Regions from separate parts of the Homo sapiens genome. Here region 2 is linked to region 1. Evidence: fine-mapped expression QTL. A gene starts in region 1. The other region holds a variant in brackets. All regions are shown on one strand. Distances are from middle to middle.

Region 1 (9,027 bases):
AAAGGTGTAGACATGGTGTAGAGGGTGATGATAGAGAAATACTCAGTGGACCACACATGTTGGATACTTGAAAACTAGAAGCACAGAGGCAGTGGATATCAGTCTTGAGAGAGAAGTCTCAAAATATTAGATGAGATGATTCTGTTCCCGGAACAAACGGAGGGTCGGCTGCTGCTTCTTGCGGCCCAATAACGAGATGCAGATTTACTGGGAAAGAAGCGAATTTTTATTTCTGCGTACAGGGAGAAGGCCTAGAAAATATCTCCAGACCAACTCAAAATTACAAAGTTTTCCAGAGCTTATATACCTTCTAAGCTATACGTCTACGTATAGGTGTGCATTATTCATCTAAAAACATAAGTGATTAACTTCTTCAAATCTATAACTAAGGTCTGAGTTTTAAGACCTTCCTCTGGTGCCTCAGTAAATTTACCTAATCTAGATGGGTCCGGGTGCTGGGGTGATTACCCTTATCTTGTCTCTCCTGCTAAATCATTAAGGTTTGCGGAGTTCCTTCAGACCCTCAATAAACTTGTTTGTGGAGGCCTGGGAGTTCCTTCAGACCCCCATAAAACTTGTTTAATCCTAAACAGGTCCTAATCGATTCCTTCGTTATCTTGTCATGCTTCAAGGCCCAGGAAAGGCCTGGGCAAAACTCTCAGTGGGCTTCTGTTACATTCCAGCCTTTGTATAAGGGCACTGGCTCTATCAGCTTTTAATATTTTTTTTTCTTTTTTGAGACGGAGTCTTGCTCTGTCGCCCAGGCTGGAGTGCAATGGCACAATCTCGGCTCACCACAACCTCTGCCTCCCAGGTTCCAGTGACTCCTCTGCCCCAGCCTCCCGAGCAGCTGGGACCACAGGCACGCACCACCACACCCGGCTAATTTTTGTATTTTTGGTACAGATGGGGTTTCACCATATTGGCCAGTCTGGTCTCCAACTCCTGACCTTGTGATCCACCTGCCTCGGCCTCCTAAAGTGCTGGGATTACAGGCGTGAGCCACCGTGCCCGGCTTCAGCTTTTAATATTTAACTTAACCAGACGGGTGTGGTGGCTCACGCTTGTAATCCTAGTACTTTGGGAGGCCAAGGCAGGCGGATCACCTGAGGCTGGGAGTTCAAGACCAGCCTGGCCAACATGGTGAAATTCTGTCTCTACTAAAAATACAAAATGAGCTGAGCTTGGTGACAGGTGCCTGTAATCCCAGCTACTTGGGTATTCTTTCCACATGCTTCTCCTGCTCTTCGTATCTCACCTAAGCTCTGCTTTTGGGGGGCAGATACGGCCCACGGAGAGGGAGGAGCAAGGTTAATGATTTTTAAGAAAATCCAGTAGTTCCCTGAGTCTGGACTTGGTGCCCTAGTAGAGGCAAACAGATGCTGTCACCAGGGAAGCCCTGATGAAATGACTGGGAAAGTTATTTTTCTTAACGTTTTTCTTTATTCCCTTTATGTATAGACAAAGTTGCTTAAGAAGAAGCCAGACTGCCCAGCATGGTCCAGATCTTGACCCCTGACCAGATCCAAGGGGGAAATTAGACCCCCGAACCAGCGTATATACTGGAACTGACAATCCCTAATTGCCTTTAGATCATTAACATATCACTAGAGTGTTAAGTTACCCCCTCCCCCACACGACACCAAACAAGAAAATCTCCACCATTTTGTGTGCCTGGGTTGTATTGAGAGGTGACAGCATGCTGGCAGTCCTTGCAGCCCTCACTCGCTCTTGGCGCCTCCTCTGCCTGGGCTCCCACTTTGGCGGCACTTGAGGAGCTCTTCAGCCCACCGCTGCACTGTGGGAGCCCCTTTCTGGGCTGGCCAAGGCCGGAGCTGGCTCCCTCAGCTTGCAGGGAGGTGTGGAGGGAGAGGGGCGAGCGGGAACCGGGGCTGCGCGCCGCGCTTGTGGGCCAGCTGGAGTTCCGGGTGGGCGTGGGCTTGGTGGGCCCCGCACTCGGAGTGGCCGGCCGGCCCCGCTGCCCCGGGCAGTGAGCGGCTTAGCACCTGGGCCAGCAGCTGCTGTGCTCAATTTCTCGCCGGGCCTTAGCTGCCTCCCCGCGGGGCAGAGCTCAGGACCTGCAGCCCACCATGCCTGAGCCTCCCCACGACCCCTTGGGCTCCTGTGCTGCGCGAGCGTCCCTGACGAGCACCGCCCCCTGCTCCACGGCGCCCAGTCCCATCACCACCCAAGGGCTGAGGAGTGCAGGTGCGTGGCATGGCACAGGACTGGCAGGCAGCTCCACCTGCGGCCCGGTGCAGGATCCACTGCGTGAAGCCAGTGGGGTTCCTGAGTCTGGTGGGGACTTGCAGAACCTTTATGTTTAGCTAAGGGATTGTAAATGCACCAATCAGCACCCTGTGTCTAGCTCAGGGTTTGTGAATGCACCAATCGACACTCTATATCTAGCTACTCTGGTGGGGACTTGGAGAAACTTTATGTCTAGCGAAGGGATTGTAAATACACCAATCGGCACTCTGTATCTAGCTCAAGGTTTGTAAACACACCAATCAGCACCCTGTGTCTAGCTCGGGGTTTGTGAATGCACCAATCGACACTCTGTATCTAGCTACTCTGGTGGGGATGTGGAGAATCTTTGTGTCTACACTCTGTATCTAGCTAATCTAGTGGGGACTGGAGAACTTTTGTGTCTAGCTCAGGGATTGTAAATGCACCAATCAGTGCCCTGTCAAAACAGACCACTCGGCTCTCTGTAAAATGGACCAATCAGGAGGATGTGGGTGGGGCCAGATAAGAGAATAAAAGCAGGCTGCCTGAGCCAGCAGTGGCAACCTGCGCTGGTCCCCTTCCACACTATGGACGCTTTGTTATTTTCCTCTTTGCAATAAATCTTAATACTGCTCACTCTTTGGGTCCACACTGCCTTTATGAGCTGTAACACTCACCGCGAAGGTCTGCAGCTTCCCTCCTGAGCCAGCGAGACCACGAACCCACCAGAAAGAAGAAACTCTGAACACATCCGAACATCAGAAGGAAGAAACTCCGGACATGCCGCCTTTAAGAACTGTAACACTCACTGCAAGCGTCCGCGGCTTCATTCTTGAAGTCAGTGAGACCAAGAACCCACCAATTCCGGACACAGTATGAAGACATGTGTTTATAAACAGAGGTGGCACAACTGGAGTTCCACCCTATAGGCTAACACTCCTTTCTCTCCCCGTACTCAGTTCTTTTAAAGCCAATGCTTTCCACTGTTTTGGGGGAGGGGGCTTTAGAGAAGGAGCTCTCTTACTCTCCACTCCTAGCAAGAAATAAAACCTGCTTGCCTTTTTTCCCATTATCTTTGTAACCAATATGAACTAGGGAAAGAACTCCATTTACAGTGACAATGACAGGACTACAGAACTGGACAGCTGTCACACCATGAAGGCTGATGTCACAGAGCCAGGCCAAGGTGATGAGAACTGACCTGTAGAGTTATGCAGAAACACTACATTAGTAAACTAATAGGCATTAAATCATTAGGATTCCAAGGCCCCTGTCTTTGCCCTTGTTGTTGGGAGAAGACACTGAAAGAGAGAATTCTGGCTCTCTACAGCAAAGTTCAATTAAAAAGTATAGAGTAGGGAGGGGATGGGGAGAGAGTCAGCATGGAAAAATAACCAGCCTTCGGGAAACAAAGCCCTTCACTTTAAAGCTCTCCCTTCTTTCAAATCTGCCTGCCCGCCAGGCGGCTCTGTTCCCCTCAGTCAGCTCTGGCAGCAAGAAGTCTGTGAACTGTGTCTTTTCCCCACCCCCGCACAGCTTTTCAGATAAGTTAAACTCACCAAGGTAAATACAGTTTTGTCCCAAAGACTTCCTACTTCTGCCCTCCACAAAATCACTCAATACACCTTCAGACACCAGTGCAGAAGTGGTGATTCTGGGGAGAAGAGTGAAGACAGGCCAGGGAAGACGTGGTTAGGATTCACTCACCAATCCACGGGCCTGATCTGCACAAAGGAATTTTCCTAGAGGAACCGCAGGAAATTCTTGCTCACACTCAGGGCAGGAAAGTGAAAGATAAACTATGGGCCAATGGCATTTCTCCACGTAGGGCCTGGTGAGTCCCGCCCTCTGAATGAATCAGCCGGGCCGTGTAGCTGTGCTGTTCACAGGAGGAGCCGTGGGAACTAGAGGCATTCCCACTCAATCTCCCTTTTCTCTTGAGTCTCAGGATCTTGTTATCATGCCACTTCTTCTGACATAGTTTCAGATTAACCCAGCCAAGTATTAAAAATTAGAAAAGGTGCCCTTTTTCGAAATTCTTCCAATGTGCTCCTCTTGCTCCTGATCTCACAGCTGAGTTCTGCTTCTGGGTGACAGATATGGCCCAAAGAGAAGGAAGAACAAAGTTAATGATTTTTAGAGAATTGCAGTAGATTTCTGGTCTGGACTTAAAAATCTTATAGGACCTATGAACAGAAAAGGAGCTGCAGGTAGGAGAGATGTCATATTATTAAGACTCCGAAACCCAGAGAGGACAGGATGCTAGAAATTTATCTGGAGAGGGCCGGGCGCGGTGGCTCACGCCTGTAATGCCAGCACTTTGGGAGGCTGAGGCGGGCGGATCACAACGTCAGGAGATCGAGACCATCCTGGCTAACACGGTGAAAACCCATCTCTAATAAAATAAAATAAAATAAAATAAAATAAAAAATTAGCCGGGCATGGTGGCGGGTGCCTGTGGTCCCAGCTATTCCGGAGGCTGAGGCAGCAAAATGGCGTGAACCCGGGAGGCGGAGCTTGCAGTGAGCAGAGATCGCGCCACTGCACTCCAGCCTGGGCGACAGAGTGAGACTCCGTCTCAAAAAAAAAAAAAAAAAAAAAAAAAAAAAGAAGTTTATCTGGAGAGCGATAAAGAAATACCACATTATTTCTTTCAACTATTCACTTTCAAAGAACTCTCCAACTTCCCGCTGTTGTCTTTTCCAAAGTATCTATTGCATCCCTGAGCAGGGCCAGGCCTTCCTCTCTCTTCTCTTCTGGTTACTATGCAAAACTGGTCCAAAAGGCTGAACTGTGGTCCATGTACCATAGCCTCCCTTCTAAGCTTTCCCTTACTGGAACATCTCAGGAAGTCCACACTGGAACTAGGATCATTGGTAGAGAGGAGTATTTAGTTTGAAAATGAAAATGCCTCAGGAGAAGGCAATGGGGAGCACTGCAGTGGGCAGCCTGTTATCACTTAATTCCATCATCAGTAACCTCATACCCCCTCCACACTGTACCCCCGCAGCTTTCTGTTTCATGAAATCAGGTAGGGGGCTTTTGCATTTTGTTCTTTATTGTCTCAGATTTACTAGAATATGGTGTATATAAGGAGTAATATTTAAATAGATATGAAGATATATAGCTATTAATCTAATTTTAATTGAATATCTTGATGTCACATTTCTGTTCTATTCTTGCTGTAAAGATAACTGCTGTGTCACCTAGTTTAATTCAAATATTCTTCTGGCATTAGTAATAATTATGTGGCAGTAATAATTATAGTAATAATTATAATAATTAGTATTATTAATAATTACAATTATTAATAGTTACAATTATAATTAATATTACTAATTGTTATTTAGTAATAATTATGTGGCATTAGTAATAATTATGTAATGATTACATTTGCAGTGGCTCACACCTGTAATCCTCGCACTTCGGGAGACCAAGGCGGGTGGATCACTTGAGGTCAGGAATTTGAGACCAGCCTGACCAACATGGTGAAACCTCATCTCTACGAAAAATACAAAAATTAGCCAGGTGTAATGGCAGATGCCTGTAATCCCAGCTACTCAGGAGGGTGAGGAAGGAGAATTGCGTGAACCCGGGAGGTGGAGGTTGAAGTGAGCCGAGATCATGCCACTGCACTCCAGCCTGGGCAATAGAGTGAGACTCTGTCTCAAAAAAAAAAAAAAAAAAAAAAAAAAAAAAAAAAAAAAAAAGTAATTATGTAAATTTTTAAACAAATTTTAAACGATTTTTTAAAATATCCTCTCTGTTTTCTTCCTAAGTATTATTCAGACTCTAACCATATTTACTCTTATTTTGCTCTTTTTCTTGAAGAGAAAAATGTTAAATATCCATGGACCCAAAGGTAGAGATATTTCATTTGATTCCTTTTCAAGCAGGAAAGCAGGATATATAAGGTTTACAGGCTGGGCGCGGTGGCTCACGCCTGTAATCCCAGCACTTTGGGAGGCCAAGGTGGGTGGATCATGAGGTCAGGAGATTGAGACCATCCTGGCTAACAAGGTGAAACCCCGTCTCTACTAAAAATACAAAAAATTAGCCAGGCGCGGTGGCGGGCGCCTGTAGTCCCAGCTACTCGGGAGGCTGAGGCAGGAGAATGGCGTGAACCCGGGAAGCGGAGCTTGCAGTGAGCCGAGATCGCACCACTGCAGTCCGCAGTCCGGCCTGGGCGACAGAGCGAGACTCCGTCTCAAAAAAAAAAAAAAAAAAAAGGGTTTACAGAGAAAACACAGAGCTCCAACAATAATATATTTTTTCTACAATTTAGAACATAGGTTAGAATATGGAGCCTGCCAACATGCTCTACTCTGGTGATAAACTGTGTGTGGTGCATTCAGTTTTTCTATTGGCCCACGTTTTCTGGTATCTTGTCAGGACCTAATATTACTACTGTTTTCTCTCAGCTGCAATTAATACTTCATGAGATAAATCAGACCAGGATGAAAGTTCACTTCAGATGTTCAAAGCCAGACGAGAATAAAAGGATGGCTATGAGATCTATGGAAGTGCTGAGAAGGGAAGAAATAATGGACAGAGAACAGGTCTCTGGATAAATGAGTTCATTCACTTTGTCCATTGTGGTTGACACTCGGACTCCACTCTGTGCACTCCAGAAAAAACACATTCACTCACTGAGCGCTCACTCCCCTACAAATGTCAACAAGATATTCTATTCAAACATGGAATATACCTAAAATTACATCTCTTGCTTATTTATCTTCAAGAAGAAATAAGAAAATTTCACGCCTGTCTTAGTCAAGGTTCATCATAGCAATAGAACCACTAAACTATGAATTTATTTGGAAAGAAACTTGAGAAATGTCTCAGGTGATTCTGGAGACTGGCAAATCCAAAGTCTGCAAGGTAGGCCAAGAGGCTCTGGATCCAAGAAGGAGTCAACGTTATAGCTCACGCCTGAGGTTTGCCTGCTGGTAATATTCCCTCTTCTCGGGGAGAAGTCAGTTTTTTCTTCTATTCTGGCTTTCAGCTGATTGAATAAGGTCCTCATAGATATAAGTGAGTAGGAAAGAATTTATAGCCAGGATTAGCTTATTATTCTGTGAGCAACAAATAATACCAAAATATCTATTATTGAAATAATAAACATTGATTTCTCAGTCATCCTACATGTGTATCATTGATTAAAGTATGAAGATGGCCATGCTCCATAGTGTCAGTCAGGGATCCATGTTATGGAAGCTCCATGAGTTGCCTTTTTTTTTCTTTTTTTTTGGGTGTGTGTGTGTATGTGTTGTGTGGTGTTTGTTTGTTTGTTTTTTGTAGAGACAGGGTCTTACTATGTCACCCAGGCTGCAGTGCTATGGTGCAATGACGCAATCTTGGCTCAATGCAACCTCCACCTCCTGGGCTCAAGCCATCCTCCCATCTCAGTTTCCTGAGTAGCTGGGACTACAGGTGCACATCACCACACCCAGCTATTTTTTTTTTTTTAATTTTTCTTAGAGATGGGATTTCACCATGTTGCCCAGGCTGGTGTTGAAGTCCTGGACTCAAGTGATCCACCCACCTGGGCCTCCCAGAGTGCTGGGATTACAGGCATGAGACACCACAGGCCTCCATCAGTTTTTGATGGCATTATCTGGCACATGCAGTTAAACAAGAATACAATAGACAACAGGGTACAGAAGTATGTGCATGACGTATAACATGTTTCAGTGCTGCTTTTTAATTGATTGTGTAAAAATGACCAAACTTTTCTTAGAGAAGCAGGGAAAAGTGGAAAAATTATGAAGGCATGAGAGTAACTCAATGAATGATTATAATTAAACAGCATCATCTGTTAACTTCCATGTTCTCACCTGCCTCAGTGGCTGGGTAACATGACACTGACACAGTTTTACCTCTATTACTCTCTGGAATCCATCCTCATCTGGTCTGTCTGGATTAGGAGCAGGAAGTGATAATTAATTGATGGACTCTTAAGATTTAATGACATTTTGAGAACATTTTTTTCAATGGGCTCACACTAAAGATCCTTTTATTTATAAAAATAATTTTTTTACCATTCACAATGTCAGCTGCTAATACTCATCTTGTCAGCCCAAATTTGTAGAGCTTTATAACTGAGTATCTTCCTCGTCAGACTGCATTTCAAGAAGCTAGGTCCCAAGTCTCTGGATCTTTATTTTCCTGGCTTAGGTCTTAAATATAAGATAAATTCGACTAATAATTATAGGACTGCATTGGAATTCTAAGTATTCAGGCAAGCTGTATAACTGTAATTCACATTCTTTTTATTCAAATATTCTTGCTTGAGTAAACCACAGTAAGAATAAGGAAGTAGTGACTGAGTGCCTTGCCAGTACAGCAGATGCTAGAACATAATGTAGCATTACTTTCCCCAGGGTTTATTGTTATGTAAGTTCTTGTTCAGCTTCCTTTGTTTTCTTTCACTTCTGAGAATTTAACTTTCGTTTCTCACTCAGCTCCTGTGGGGAAACTCATTTGTGGAGACCAGCCCTCTGGCTTGGTGAGTGAATCTGGTTTACACCGGCTCCTGCCCTGCCTTCACTCTTCTCCCCTGATTCAAGACTCCTCTGCTTTGGACTGAAGGTGAGTGGAGCAATCTGTGGGAGCATAGAATGGGAGGCTTTGAGAAGAATAGATTGATTGTGTCTGGGTGAGTTTAATTTGTAGTTCTGAAGCTGCTCTGCATAAACAAAAAGAGGCAGCTTGTGAACTGTCTGCTGAGATGGCAGAGGAAGAAAGCACTGAGTCTGGGAGAGGGGTAACCTTTAAAGAAGAGAGGTTTGCAAAAGC
Region 2 (9,027 bases), 24 kb before region 1:
ATAAGTGGGAGTTGAACAATGTGAACACATGGACACAGGGAGGGGAACATCACACACCAGGGCCTTCGATGGGTGGGGGACTAGGGAAGGGATCGCATTAGGATAAATACCTAATTTAGATGACAGGTTAATGGGTGCAGCAAACCACCATGGTACGTGTATACCTGTGTAACAAACCTGCACGTTCTGCACATGTATCCCAGAACTTAAAGTGTATATATATATAAAATATTTATATATAATGCATTTATATATATATTTATATATTATATATAATGCATTATATATATTATTTATATATTATATATAATGCATTTATATATATTATTTATATATTATATATAATGCATTATATATAATATATATTTATATATTATATATAATGCATTATATATATTATTTATATATTATATATAATATATATTTATAATATAATATATATATATTTATAATATAATATATATAAATATATATATATATTATATTGTATTATATTCTGGAATAGCTGGGACTACAGGCCTGCACCACCATGCCCGGCAAATTTTTGTAGTTTTAGTAGAGACAGAGTTTCACCATGTTGGCCAGGCTGGTCTCTAACTCCTGACCTCAAGTGATCTGAGAGCCTCGGCCTCCCAAAGTGCTGGGATTACAGGCCTGAGCCACCATGTCTGGCAAAATCCTTTTATTTAGAAAAATAAGTTTATTTTTCCCATTCAGAATGACAGCTGCTAATTATATGAGAGGGGTGCAGGGAAGTGCTGAAAAGAGAAAGGCACGGTCCCTGACAAAGCCTCCACTCCTGGGGCCTGGGCCCACAGACTTAGGTGAGGACAGGAATTTCCGTTTTTGTGCCCAAATGTTGCATTTTCCAAGATCACCCTGGCCTGCTATGCCCCCATCCTGTGCCTATAGCAGGAAGAGACACAAGCAACTGAATGTTAAGAGTAGCAAATTGGTAGAAGAACACACCAACAGGCACCAGCACATGCTGGAAGGCCAGCGACCAATGGACCGATGCAGAGATTGGTCGGGGATGTCAGAGGACAGCCTGGCTGCTGGGTGGCCCAACTCCAGGGAAATCCACCTTCCTACTCCATCTTCCTTCTGGCCTCTTCATCCACCTCGCTGAGAGCTACTACCACTCGATAAAAAACCTTGCACTCGTTCTCCAAGCCCACGTGTGATCCAATTTTTCTGATACGTTAAGGCAAGAACCTGGGATACAGAAAGCCCTCTGTCCTTGCAATAAGGCAGAGGGTCAGAGCAGATAAACACAAGCCACCTGCAGGCAGCAAAGAGGAAACTCCTCCAATACTGTTATATTTTTCTAAGTGTCTATTACCCTGAATATTCTGACTGCTTTTGTCACTTTCTAGTGCCTTCAGGTTTACTTGATTTTCACATTTTGTGCAAGGTTTCTAATGTTGATCTATGGGTGAGGACATGAAGTTTTGTTAGAAAGAGTACAGTGTGTGCATGTGTCTTTATAGCAGCATGATTTATAATCCTTTGGGCACATACCCAGTAATGGGATCGCTGGGTCAAATGTGGCACTATACACCATGGAATACTATGCAGCTACAAAAAAGGATGAGTTCATGTCCTTTGCAGGGACATGGATGAAGCTGGAAACCATCATTCTCAGCAAACTATCACAAGGACAGAAAACCAAACACCGCATGTTCTCACTTGTAGGTGGGAATTGAACAATGAGAACACTTGGACACAGGGCGGGGAACATCACACACTGAGGCCTGTGGTAGGGTGGGCGCCTGGGGGAGGGATAGTATTAGGAGAAATACCTAATGTAAATGACGAGTTAATGGGTGCACCAAACCAACACGGCACATGTATACATATGTAACAAACCTGCACATTGTGCACATGTACCCTAGAACTTAAAGTATAAAAAAAAAGAGTACAGTGTAACACATGTCCGCGGGGCCCACAGGAGCTGTAAACACTCACCCCTAGAGGTTGCTGTGGGGTTAGAGCCCCACAGCCTGCCCGTCTGCATTCTCCCCTAGAGCTTTGAGCAGCAGGGCACTGAAGCGAGCCATTCCCCCTGTCGCATGCCCTGCAAAGGGAACAAGGGAACTTTTCTCATTTCACTAATAACTCATTTTGTCAGCCCAAATTTGCAGAGCTTTATAACTCAGTGTCTTCCCCATCAGATTGCATTTCAAGATGCTAGGTGTCAAGTTGTTCTGGGTCATTATTCTACATGCTTAGAGCTTAGGTATAAGATAACTTCAACTAATAATTATAGAATTGCATGGAAATTCTAAGTACTCAGGTAAAGCACTGTATATTCAAAGCTGTAGAATGTATAACTGTAATTCATATTCTTTTAATTCAAATATTCTTGCTGTAGTAAACTGCACTAAGAATAAAACTGTAGTGACTGAGTGCCTAGATGGTACAGACCATAGAACATACTGAAACATTACCATCCCCAGGTTTTATTGTTTTGTAAGCTCCTGTTCTGGATTCTGTATAATTCTCTGAAGCCTTTTTTTTTTTTCAGGTAGTTAATTTGATTGAAATTAAATTCTTAATTTTTCCCTGCTACATACAGCAGCTGAAATCTTTAGCCTATTTTGGGCTGCTTCACATCTGTCTCAAACATGTACTTTAGAGACTTGACTAGAGTTTATACAATTTGGTATTTATTCCTCTATATCTCTTCTTTACGGGTACTCTACCATCATTTTCTAGTTGCTATGGCAGGCACAAATCATTCTTTTTTTTTTGAAACGGAGTCTCGCTCTGTCGCCCAGGCTGACGTGCAGTGGCGAGATCTCGGCTCACTGCAACCTCTGCCTCCTGGGTTCAAGCGATTCTCCTGCCTCAGCCTCCTGAGTAGCTGGGACTACAGGCGCCCACCACCATGCCCGGCTAATTTTTGTGTTTTTAGTAGAGACGGGGTTTCACCATATTGGCCTAGCTGGTCTCGAAATCCTGATCTTGTGATCTGCCCACCTCAGCCTCCCAAAGTGCTGGGATTACAAGCGTAAGCCACTGCGTCCGGCTCATTCTTGTTTTTCAAAGCAGCAAGTACATATATTGTTAACTGAGTTTTTAGTGTTCTACCCAGTAACAACTGAGGTCTGCCTTCAAGTGAAAAGCCACAGAAACAGGAAACTCCCCCAATACTGTTGTCTTTTTCTAAGTGTCTATTACCCTGAATATTCTGATTGCTTGTCACTTTCTAGTGCCTTCAGGTTTGATTTTTACATTTTGTCCAAGGTTTCTAATGTTGGATCTGTGGGTGAGGGCATGCAGTTTTATTAGAATATATACCTTCATTAATGGAAATAGAACCTCAGTTTTGCTCACTCTAGACAATCTTTAACTATATGTTAAATTGATTGATTTTACGCTTTCTTTCTCTACCAAACTGCCGGATTTTTTTTTCAGTGTGGTTGTAATGTTTTGCACTGCCACATAATTCAGAAAGAAAATAATGGTGGTGTTGGAGTATGGTGGTTAATACAAAGATATTATTAAGTTTAGATAGGCCGGGCGCAGTGGCTCACGCCTGTAATCCCAGCACTTTCGGAGGCCGAGGCGGGCGGATCTTGAGGTCAGGAGATCGGGACCATCCTGGCTAACACGGTGAAACCCTGACTCTACTAAAAATACCAAAAATTAGCTGGGCATGGTGGCAGGTGCCTGTAGTGCCAGCTACTCGGGAGACTGAGGCAGGAGAATGGCGTGAACCCAGGAGGTGGAGGTTGCAGTGAGCCGAAATCGCGCCACTGCACTCCAGCCTGGGCGACAGAGAGAGACTCCGTCTCAAAAAAAAAAAAAAAAAAAAAAAAAAAAAAAAAAAAAAAAAAAAAAAAGATTAGATATATGTTTAGGCATATTATGAGATTTAACTTATGTATCTTATTGATACTGAATAGGATCAAGGAGCTCAGAACATAATTGTTACCTTGTGACAAGTATAGCATCAAGAAGGAGTATTGGTTGCAATGTCCAAAGAAAAAAACCAAAGAGATCTCTTTTCCAAAGAGCTCTCCTCTGCCCGATGCTTATTCCATCCCATCCCTCCAACACATCATATAAACGTTCTTTTACTTTTCTCTCCCTTTGAATCTTAGAATTGGCTCTTCATCAGGGCACCTTCTCTTTAGCCCCTACGAACTCTCATTCTGCTTCTTCGTATTCTTTGTCCTCCCACTGGTTTCTGCTTGAGGCCTGCTCCCATTCTTTACTCAGTGTCCTGCAGAACAGTCTTCAAGCAATCCCTGTTTTTTTTCACAACCTCTTTTCTCTGTGCTTCTCCCCAGATTGTACCAAAATTCTAGCCAGATATGCCTAATTAATGGCCCAGCATAGATCTGAAGTCTCAGAATAGAAGACGACATAATTGTTACTCAGAGGTTCAGAAGTGATGGGGAGGGAACATCCTAGAACTGATACACAGGCAGAGAGAAAATCCACAGTTGACGTCCATTAGCCTTTTGGAGCACAGGTTGCCTTCTTCAGCCTTTTACTGAGAAGACGGAGTGTAACTCAGAGCAATTCATAAGCTTCATATTCTTTTCAGCTGAGAGGTTCATTACTAGGGCCAGGAGCATCTGTTTGAAAAAATCCTTCAGTGTGCAGATCTTTTCTGTTGTATATACAAATTCAGGTCTTTATTGTTGTGTAACTGGGTACTTCATCCTGAGCTGTGGGACTTGGCTTTCCAGGAAATGAAAAGGCATTAATGTCCCTGGAGAGTCACTTGCCAATAATTCAAGCTAGTCCAGACTGTTCCCAGTGAGTGAAAGCCTCAATCTTCATAGCATTGGGTGACAGGAAAGCAGAGGTAAAAGGGAAAATTTATAGCATCAACCTCCTCGGTTTCCCTGGATGGTGCTGAGGTAGAGAGGTGTGTGCACACACATAGTTACTGAAAATATTCACCTTGGAATCCCTTCTCTGACTAAAGTTACCACAAAGATAGAGACCTTAAAATTTCTGTGGGGAAGCAGGGTGAAGAGCAGAGACTATTTGATGAGGTAGACCATTAAAACAAAACAAAAAACTTCAGCTCAAAACTTGGGAAAGAGTTGGAAATAAAAATGCCAATAGACATAGGGATCCTACCATGCCCTTCATAAACATCCGTTGCAAAAATAATTCTCCTCACTGAACAAGGAGAACAAGTATTTTTTTGTCATTTATGAAAATTACCATGCCTTTGTTACTTTAATGAAGAGTCAGGCTAACCTGGGCTCACAATTCACTTATCGATACCATTGTTGAGAAATGCCACA[T/C]GTACTTCTGACTTTATCTGCATCACTGTGCAAAATACGTTTTTACTACTTGGCAAACAGGAAAAATTTACAATGAAATTAGAGTACTCAGAAATACTTAAAACAACTTAAGACTAGGCAGCTATGAAATTAAGAACAAAGATTTTTTTTCCCATTTATAAACACTTATTTTAAAACTTTCTACAAGAAAAATCTGTGATTTTTAACTTAGTTCTTGTATTTCTTCAAACGAAGGGAGAAAGATAATTTTGAAAAGAACTATTACATATTGTTAAAAATTATTGCTTTCAGTCACAGTGAGAGGGAACCAAAAATTAATAGACACCATAATGAGGCCGGGCATGGTGGCTCACACCTATAATCCTAGCACTTTGGGAGGTAAAGTGGGCAGATCGCCTGAGCCCAGGGCTTCGGGATCCGCCTGGGCAACATAGTGAAACCCTGTCTCTACCAAAAATACAAAAAATAACCAGGGCGTGGTGGTGCGTGACTGTAGTCCCAGCTACTCAGGAGGCTGAGGTGGAAGGATGAACCCTGGAGATGGAGGTTGCAGTGAGCCGAGATCGTGCCATTGCACTCCAGCTTGGGTGACAGAGACAAACCCTGTCTCAAAACAAACAAACAAACAAACAAACAAACAAACAAAAAAGCCCAACACCATAATGGATTACCCCTTACATGCTAGAAATGAGTGAAGCTATTCAAAAAACTCGTTTAACTTTTAAAAAACTACATCAGCTAATTTTATTATAATTATTTTTTACAATTAATAAACTGATTCCCACATAATTCAGTTTGTTTGATAAAGACTAATATGTAGCAACACTAGAATTACAATAAAATCCTAAATATATGTGTGTATTATATATAGAAGGCAGAATTGAAGTCATTTTGACAGTAGTATCTGAGATCTAAAAAATGAGAATTTAGTAAATCCAATCCTAGTTTCCCTGAAGGCACAACCTGTTCCATGAGACATTAACAGAGTTTATGTTTTTCAATAATTTGTAGAACAAGTACTTATTAGATCAAGACACTTAGATAGATGCTTTATACTTCAGGAATTTATTTTTTCACAATGATCCAAAGTATTAGATGAAGGTTTTTTGTTTTATTTTGCTTTTAATTGACAAATAATAAATATACATATTTATGTGGTACAGTGTGATGTTTTGATACATGTATACATTGCGTAATAACCGAACCAGGGTAATTAGCATATCCATCACCTCAAATATGTGTCATTTCTTTGTGTTGAGAACTTTCAAAATCCTCTCTTCTAGCTATTTCAAAATATATGCAATAGGTTATTGTTAACTCTAGTCACCCTACTATGCAATAAAACATTAGCACTTATTTAATGTGAAGTTTTTAATACAAAAATTATTTTAAGAAAATAAGCACAGGCTGGGCGCCGTGGCTCACGCCTGTAATCCCAGCACTTTGGGAGGCCGAGGCGGGTGGATCACCTGAGGTCAGAGGTTCTAGACGAGCCTAACCAACATGGGGAAACCCCGTCTCTACTGAAAATACAAATTTAGCCAGGGGTGGTGGTGGGCACCTGTAATCCCAGCTACTTGGGAGGCTGAGGCAGGAGAATTGCTTGAATCTGAGAGGTGGAGGTTGCAGTGAACCGAGATCGTGCCATTGCACTCCAGCCTGGGGAACAAGAGCAAAACTTCATCTCAAAAAAAAAAAAAAAGAAAAAAGAAAAGAAAAGGAAATAAGCACAGCCATTTAAGTATGTTATTCACAGTTACACTGCTGGTATATGGAGAGACAGGAGTTGAACTGAGATCCTCTAGATACAAAACCTCTATACTTAAGAGTATACCATTTATGATATTTTCTCTTTAACTCACAAATAAGGGCATCGAGGGTAAACTGACACAGGGCTAAGGACTCATTCATTGGTGAACAATTATCACACGATGATATAGAAAGGCTGTTGAAAAGCTTTTCTTCATCTTCTTAGTCAGTGTCAGAGGCAATTGGGTGATAAATATCTGGCAGAAGTAATACCTAAATAGCGGTCTCATTTTATGAGGTATAGGTCAGTTTTCCTTAGGAGTACGGAAAATGATGAAAAAAATTGCTATCAAATGTCAATAAAATATTGGGGACAATATGGCACAAGGCAATTATTACATTTTACTGATGAGTGAAGGACGTTCAAATAGAAAGAAGGGAGACAGCAAGGAAAAGATGGTTAAAATGATGCAAATGAGTTCAGGTGTATGAGATGCACCTGGACAAGAGGTGCTGTACAGAAGGGGCTGAGTGTGTAAGAAGGTTCAAGAGCTTGGTGAGCACAGAGTCATGGGGACTCCACATTTTCTAGGATTTAAATATGGAAATACAGGCTGAGAAAAAGAACAGTGAGAAAACTTATAGATGAGAAATCCATGGTTTGTGATATTGAAGAATGAGACAGTGCAAGCCTCATAGTCTAGGAAAACTCCAACACGATCAGGACAAATAATCACAGAGAGGGGCACAATGAAAGGAACAGAAGGAGTATGGAAGGAACTATCCTGGAAAGCACTACATTTAACTCCTTCCTCTAACCCTATAACCCAGTAGCCGTATTTAGGTTGATAATTTTCATTTTTTTCAATATTACACATTGCATCAGGTTGGAAGCCAGCACATACCCCCAGGATCCAAGCAGTTTTCTTGGACACGTCTACCTCCCAGTAATGTTTCCCTGATGTGATACTTTGAGAGCCCAGGATGCCAGTACAATAATTGAAATTCACAAATGTCTGGTATCTTGTCCCTCGTGCCCCATATATTATCTGTGGTTTCGGAGAGCTCACTTGTCTCTTATCTTCAGAAATGACAGCACATGAAATGTTGTTTGGAGCCACTGTCACATCAACTGTAGAAAAATTAACAGGTCAGCTAAGGGATATAATGTAACTTTATTTGTGATATGAGAGAAATCTTGATAAAGACTTGAGAGAAAACTGGGAGGAACCTTGTTTAGAAGTTATAAGGAGGGGTAAGTTATGTGTGTCTTGGAAGGAGAATCATAAATCTTAAAACATGAGCCTAATAGAGAACATAAAATTCTAAAAGATAAAGATAATAATAATGATAAGCCGCAGGGTGGCTTATGATAATGTGACTTCTCCTTACCCCAGTAGCGTCGGACATCTGTCAGCTCTGAAATGATAAAAATGCACAATATTGAATACAAACAAAGGAGTCAGCACTGAAATTCATTTTCTCTCCAGATTAGGGAAAGAGTAGGTATGCCCTATGGTAGGGCAGTAAATTGCTGAATGATGAGATGAAACAGCCACCTAGCCATTTCCCATTAAATATAATCCCATCAGCAGCAGACAATATCTATCCTCCCCTATCCCCTCTATCCATATTTGGAAACTGCACCCTCTTCCCTATTTAGCACCCTAACACCACTTGAATTCCATAACCCTGTTGTTGATCTAGCTCTCCTCACCTCTAAACACTTCTAGCATTCCTTTCAGATCAGGAGCTCGAAACACTCTCCTTTGATTTTTTGGAAAAGTTTCTGGCTTCTTCAAGGTCACGTTCTCCGTCCTAAGAATTAAAAAAAAAAAAAAAAACTTCCAAACCTTTGACCTTGTGTCCGTGGAACACCCCTGACTTCCTATCATTTCAACCCATTGAGGCACTTGAACTCTCTTCTTGGGGATCCTGAGAAGGGAGAGTGCAAACTCTTGACCCTGGAGGCAAACAAAATGTTCTCATGTTTGCCTTCCCACTT

Evidence for each region.
Region 2: its variant is fine-mapped to the expression of TRIM5 in whole blood (TOPMed, PIP above 0.99).

What each region holds. Positions count from the first base shown.
Region 1 is chr11:5,681,080-5,690,106 of GRCh38, forward strand. It overlaps TRIM5 (tripartite motif containing 5), which reads right to left and starts at 3,995. Exons shown (of 8, transcript NM_033034.3): 1 at 3,789-3,995. It overlaps TRIM22 (tripartite motif containing 22), which reads left to right and starts at 8,711. Exons shown (of 8, transcript NM_006074.5): 1 at 8,711-8,820. RefSeq lists enhancers at 3,753-4,002, 8,391-9,027, 8,505-8,844, 8,816-9,027.
Region 2 is chr11:5,657,242-5,666,268 of GRCh38, forward strand. It overlaps TRIM5 (tripartite motif containing 5), which reads right to left. Exons shown (of 8, transcript NM_033034.3): 6 at 8,740-8,840; 7 at 8,415-8,441; 8 at 5,954-8,154. The coding sequence ends at 7,568. It overlaps LOC107984302 (a long non-coding RNA gene), which reads right to left and starts at 3,591. Exons shown (of 2, transcript XR_001748100.1): 1 at 1,969-3,591. The variant T/C (reference allele first, on the strand shown) is at 5,274.